Regions from separate parts of the Homo sapiens genome. Here region 1 is linked to region 2. Evidence: fine-mapped expression QTL. A gene starts in region 2. The other region holds a variant in brackets. All regions are shown on one strand. Distances are between the middles of the regions. Region 1 has its middle 32 kb from the start of TPBG. Region 2 holds the start of TPBG (trophoblast glycoprotein).

Region 1 (2,906 bases), 32 kb before region 2:
AATCCCAGGTGTTCTTGCTGAGAGCACAGTGAGAGCATGAGGATTGCCCTGAGAAGCAAGAAAATGCTCATTAAAGCAGGTTTCTGGTGGGAGATGACTCTGACTGGCAGGCCTGCATTCCTCCCTGTGGTGACCCCTTTCCTTGTTAGAGAGGGGGTCTGATGTCCAAATGTATCTGGGTTTAATGAGTAGCTGTTCACTGGGGACCCAGAGATGGCAAAGTGCTTGCTTGGTGAACCAAGAACAGCATATCGTTTATTTTGTGGATACGACACTGTTTAAATAATGTAAAAGTTTTTCTTTTGTGAGACGCTTTCCATGCCTTAGTAATTCTGAATGGCATATGTGGATATAGGAAACCTGAGGCTATGGTATAAATGGACTAACCAGGTTGGCTGAATTAATGATTCTGACAAAATCCCTAAATTCTTAAAAATAATTTGATAAGATCAACAGACATTTATGTCCCTACTGTAAATGAAGATGGAATAAAATTAGGAATTCTTCCCATAGGTCTGCAGATGTAGAATGGTTAATCAGGTGAAAAGATATTTAAATAACAGACCAGGGAATTAGGCCACCATATTGATTTTTTTAAATTGTTTTAATCTGTCAGATACTTACTAACTGCAAGCATATTTTGTCTTGCAGGGCATATTTCAACAAAATGGCAAATAATATGTATTTTGGTGAAACCAAAATTGAGTAATTGTATATAACAAAATTGTGAATAGCAAAGTAGCAATTTATATATGGCTAAGAATAGAATTTTATACAAAATATAGAGTGCAATGTCTGTGTGAGAAAATGCATGACAACAACGACAGTGTTAAAGTCCTCGAGAAACACCACATGTGTATCATAAGCTAAGCTAAGCATTTACTTGGAATTAAGTGCCAAGAAAAAATATTATTTCCCTGTGGCATGATATTTTGAAAGACCTCTCCATCACTTAAAAGTAAGGTGTTTTTTTTTTTCTGTCAGTATTCTAGAAATAAATTTGAAAGCACTTAAGGTATATGGAAAATTTTCTACTATTATTAGTATAAAAAACAACTGCGAAGGAAAACTCAGTGCTTTCCAAATCAACGTGTTTAATGCCCTGTTTATAGAATCAACTGTATCAACCACTTCATGATATAATTTTTCTCCCATTCAAATGAAGTTCTAGATCTGTGGAATCTTAACTTAAATACTTAACTCCTATTAGGCTATGTCTTGTGCAACTCTGGCCAATTTCATTAATTTTTCATTG[C/T]TTTGGTTTCCCAACTGAAAAATAAGGATCATAATGTAGTTCCACCTCTTCATCACATTCTATAGGGTTGGGCTAAACTGAGCACAAATAAAATATTTTTATGTAATAAAGGTATTACATAAAAATATTAATACTCTTGTAAATTTTTAATTATTACAATTTTAAAAACAACATAATTTTCCAAATAGATGAGGTGTAAGTATATAATTTAAGTCATCATTGAGCTTATCAGGTGGGCAGGGGACGAAACTGATACACAGATATTTACTGACCACATTCTAATGCCAAGCACTTTATATGCACTATTTCACTCAACTGTCATTACAGTCTGAGGTAAATACTACTATAAGATCTACTTTATAAATGGGAAAATTGCGGGGGAGGAGCCAAGATGGCCGAATAGGAACAGCTCCGGTCTACAGCTCCCAGCGTGAGCGACGCAGAAGATGGGTGATTTCTGCATTTCCATCTGAGGTACCAGGTTCATCTCACTAGGGAGTGCCAGACAGTGGGCGCAGGTCAGTGGGTGCGCGCACCGTGCGCGAGCCGAAGCAGGGTGAGGCATTGCCTCACTTGGGAAGTGCAAGGCATCAGGGAGTTCCCTTTCCGAGTCAAAGAAAGGGGTGACGGACGCACCTGGAAAATCGGGTCACTCCCACCCGAATATTGCGCTTTTCCGACCGGCTTAAAAAACGGCGCACCACGAGATTATATCCCACACCTGGCTCGGAGTCTCGCTGATTGCTAGCACAGCAGTCTGAGATCAAACTGCAAGGTGGCAGCAAGGCTGGGGGAGGGGCGCCCGCCATTGCCCAGGCTTGCTTAGGTAAACATAGCAGCCGGGAAGCTCGAACTGGGTGGAGCCCACCACAGCTCAAGGAGGCCTGCCTGCCTCTGTAGGCTCCACCTCTGGGGGCAGGGCACAGACAACAAAAAGACAGCAGTAACCTCTGCAGACTTAAATGTCCCTGTCTGACAGCTTTGAAGAGAGCAGTGGTTCTCCCAGCATGCAGCTCGAGATCTGAGAATGGGCAGACTGCCTCCTCAAGTGGGTCCCTGACCCCTGATCCCCGAGCAGCCTAACTGGGAGGCACCCCCCAGCAGGGGCACAATGACACCTCACACGGCAGGGTATTCCAACAGACCTGCAGCTGAGGGTCCTGTCTGTTAGAAGGAAAACTAACAAACAGAAAGGACATCCACACCAAAAACCCATCTGTACATCACCATCATCAAAGACCAAAAGTAGATAAAACCACAAAGATGGGGAAAAAACAGAACAGAAAAACTGGAAACTCTAAAACGCAGAGCGCCTCTCCTCCTCCAAAGGAACGCAGTTCCTCACCAGCAACGGAAAAAAGCTGGATGGAGAATGACTTTGACGAGCTGAGAGAAGAAGGCTTCAGACGATCAAATTACTCTGAGCTACGGGAGGACATTCAAACCAAAGGCAAAGAAGTTGAAAACTTTGAAAAAAATTTAGAAGAATGTATAACTAGAATAACCAATACAGAGAAGTGCTTAAAGGAGCTGATGGAGCTGAAAACCAAGGCTCGAGAACTACGTGAAGAATGCAGAAGCCTCAGGAGCCGATGCGATCAACTGGAAGAAAGGATATCAGCGATGGAAGATGAAATGAATGAAATGAAGC
Region 2 (2,906 bases):
TGAGCGCGGCCAGCTCCGCCAGCGGCGGCCGGCGGGCGAAGGCGCCGGCAGGGAGCACGGCCAGCTGGTTGCCGGTAAGGAAGAGGTTGCGCACGTAGGCGGGCAGGTCCGTGGGCACCTCGGTCAGATTGCGGTTAACGCACTTGACTGTGCGCGCTGCCTCGGAGCACTCGCACAGCGCGGGGCACTGGTCCGGCAGCGGGGGCTGGGCGGACACGGCGGAAGCCAGGAACGGCGCCGAGGAGGAGAAGGAGGATGCCGAGGAGGTGGGAGAAGACGAGGAGACCCAGCCCAGGAGTACCAGCGCTAGTCGCGCCAGCCGCAGACGCCCGTCCCCGGCGGCGGGGCCCCGGGAGCACCCCCCAGGCATCGCGGCTCGCGTTTCCCCGGAGCTGGGCTGGGACGGCGCCCGCTCCGAAGGCTCGGGAGGCTGGGCCCGGAGGGCGCGAGCCGGCGGAAGCGTCTGGAAAAAAAAAACTTTCCTCTCGTGGAACCGAGGGAGTGGCGCCGCAGCCGGAACTTGGCTAACCCCCTCGCCACCGGGCGCTTCCCTCAGGGGCCGATTCCCCCGCCCCTTCCCTCCAGAAAGTACGCACGGCGGGTCGGGACGCTCCGCTCCGCGCTCCTGCTCCCGCTCCTCTTCCTGCCGCCGCCCTGGTGCCACCTCTTCGCCTCTTGTTGGCGCCCCTCGCTGGATCCTCTGAGGGACCTGGGACAAGCAGGAGAGAGGCGTGAACAGCGGTGGCTGCCGCGGCTTCCGGAGTGCAAAAACCGGCCTTTTCGAGTCTAGTCGTCTCCAGTCTGTCCCAGAGACCTCCTTCCAAAAGCCCGCCCCGGCCTCGCCTCCCCAACCCCTCCGGTCACTTTTACTCCGGAGGGGGACGCGCATCCGACACCCAGACCGCAAAGTCTTCCTTCTTCCCTGGCCCACACTAAATAAACCCGACCGGCCTCCCGCCCTCCGCCTTTCCCGAGGAGACTCGTCTCCCGCGTCTAACTTACCGCTTAATCCCCAATTCCTTCCCTACCAAACTTCTCCCTCTCCCGTTCCTTCCTGCACCGCCTCGGCGGAAGGTCGGCCTCCGGGTGTCTCCGCCCCCGCCCAGACCTCTCCACCAGGTCCCGGTTAGGATGCGAGGGAAGTTTCAGGTTACAGGACTTTTTGATCTCTTTTTGTACCTTCTCGCATTAGCAGGAAGTGGAGCTACAACTGTCGCCCCCCAGCCCGCGCCCCGCCAGCCCCTCGGATCTCAAAGGGGTTCAAGTCATCTCCAAAGAGGAGGGGAGAGTCTGGGAACAAAGCAGCAGTGGGACTCGGGGTACAGTGGCAACCCGAACCAACCCTACTCTCCACCCGAGGATGGGGAGGGGCCCCAACGACGCCTCCCGGGTCTCTCCCAGGCCGCGGGCTCCCACTGCTCACCTCCGCGTCCGCCGCCTCCAGAACCAACTCTGAGTTCCACCAGAGTAGCGACGACTTCCCGGCTCCGCGTTGCGGGCGCCGACTCTCTTCGCACCCCAGCCCCTGGCCCAACCTCCCAACCTCCGCAGCTGGGAAAAACCAACCCGGGGGGCGGGGGAGGGCCAGGACTGTCGGGGAGATTCCCGACGCGCGGCCAACCTCGGCAGCCGTAGGTAGGGGGATTTAAGAAGAGAGACTAGGGGAGCTGGGCTGCGCGCCTCCTCCTGGTGGAAATTAACGAGGAATGTGCCGGAAAAGGTGAGGGAATCCCTTTCTCTCCCCCCTCCCCGACATCCTTGGGTGGTTCCTCATTTTGCATACTGTATTTACCTTGGACTGGAGCAAAACCGCTGGTGAATCTCGTGGAATTCACCCTGATTCAGGCACCTTTGGCAGTGACGAGATAGATTTAGGCATGACAGAGCAGCGCGAAGCAGCAGCAGAAAGAAATGAGCTGAAAATCTACTGCGGCAGCAGCAAAGGCACGGCAGGTTGTATGGAAGCTTCAGAAGCTCTCCCCATCAAAGTGGTACTTGAGGCCGCAAACTTCAGATTTAGGTGTAATTAATGCCTTCCCGCCTGTCCCCCCCGCCCCCTCACTTCTTGGGTAGTGATGGAACTTGTGAAGAGAGCGCGCCAACTTTAAGAGAGAGAGAGAGAGAAAGAAAAAAAAAAGATTAGTGGAGAGGAGATTCATTCCTGATTCATTAGCTTTTCTCTTACCAAAATTAAAAGCAGATGGAAGAGAAAGGCAGCCAAAGGCATCCCAGAAACAAAAGGCAAATAGCAAAGACTTGAGTCTCCCGGAAAGCGGACCCGCCCCCCTCCCCAGATGTAGCGCGGTGTGTCAAGTCACTTCTGTGGAGAAAGCTCCAAGGATGAGGAGTGGGGATTGCAGGAGCTGACCTGGGAGAGAAGTTTGGTTTCAAAGTCGATTGTCCCAGGGGGCATCTGGCAGATGGTGATGGAGAGGATGGGGTTGGGGAGAGGGACAAATTGAATGGTTGGTTACCGGAAGGATCTGTTATTATACCAGACAGGTTTTGGGTTCTGAAAGCCCTATCGTTGCTCTCTGTAACTCCACATCCCCTTTGTCCCAATTAAATAATTTCCCCGAAGGGATAAGAAGGTTCTTCCAGGCTTCTTCATTTTAGAGAGAAAATGGCAATTAGGGAAAACATGGTTCGGAAATTTAAGACCTGGTCGTATTAAAAAAGATCAAATAAGGATCCTGAGGCTTGTGCCTGGGACATGTGCCTTTAGTGTGAAGAAAGACCCCAACTCTCCAACGGACGCCTGATTACTTTTATAGAAAGAGATAGTCTGCAAAGCCGACAGCAAAAATGGCTCAGACAAAAGCTGAAAACACTGGAAACTGCAGAGATTTGTGCACAAAAGCTGGTTTCATTAATTTGCATCTTCAGCACGTTTATCTACATCTCTT

The links.
Region 1: its variant is fine-mapped to the expression of TPBG in whole blood (INTERVAL, PIP 0.98).

What each region holds. Positions count from the first base shown.
Region 1 is chr6:82,394,151-82,397,056 of GRCh38, reverse strand. No RefSeq gene overlaps it. Among named protein-coding and RNA genes, the nearest start is that of TPBG, 32 kb to the right of the region's middle. The variant C/T (reference allele first, on the strand shown) is at 1,256.
Region 2 is chr6:82,362,426-82,365,331 of GRCh38, reverse strand. TPBG (trophoblast glycoprotein) reads right to left here and starts at 1,515. Exons shown (of 2, transcript NM_001376922.1): 1 at 1,424-1,515; 2 at 1-709. The coding sequence starts at 370. It overlaps LOC105377875 (a long non-coding RNA gene), which reads left to right and starts at 1,675. Exons shown (of 3, transcript XR_942738.4): 1 at 1,675-1,720. RefSeq lists enhancers at 1-2, 3-905, 1,057-1,568, 1,569-2,082 and a silencer at 1-34.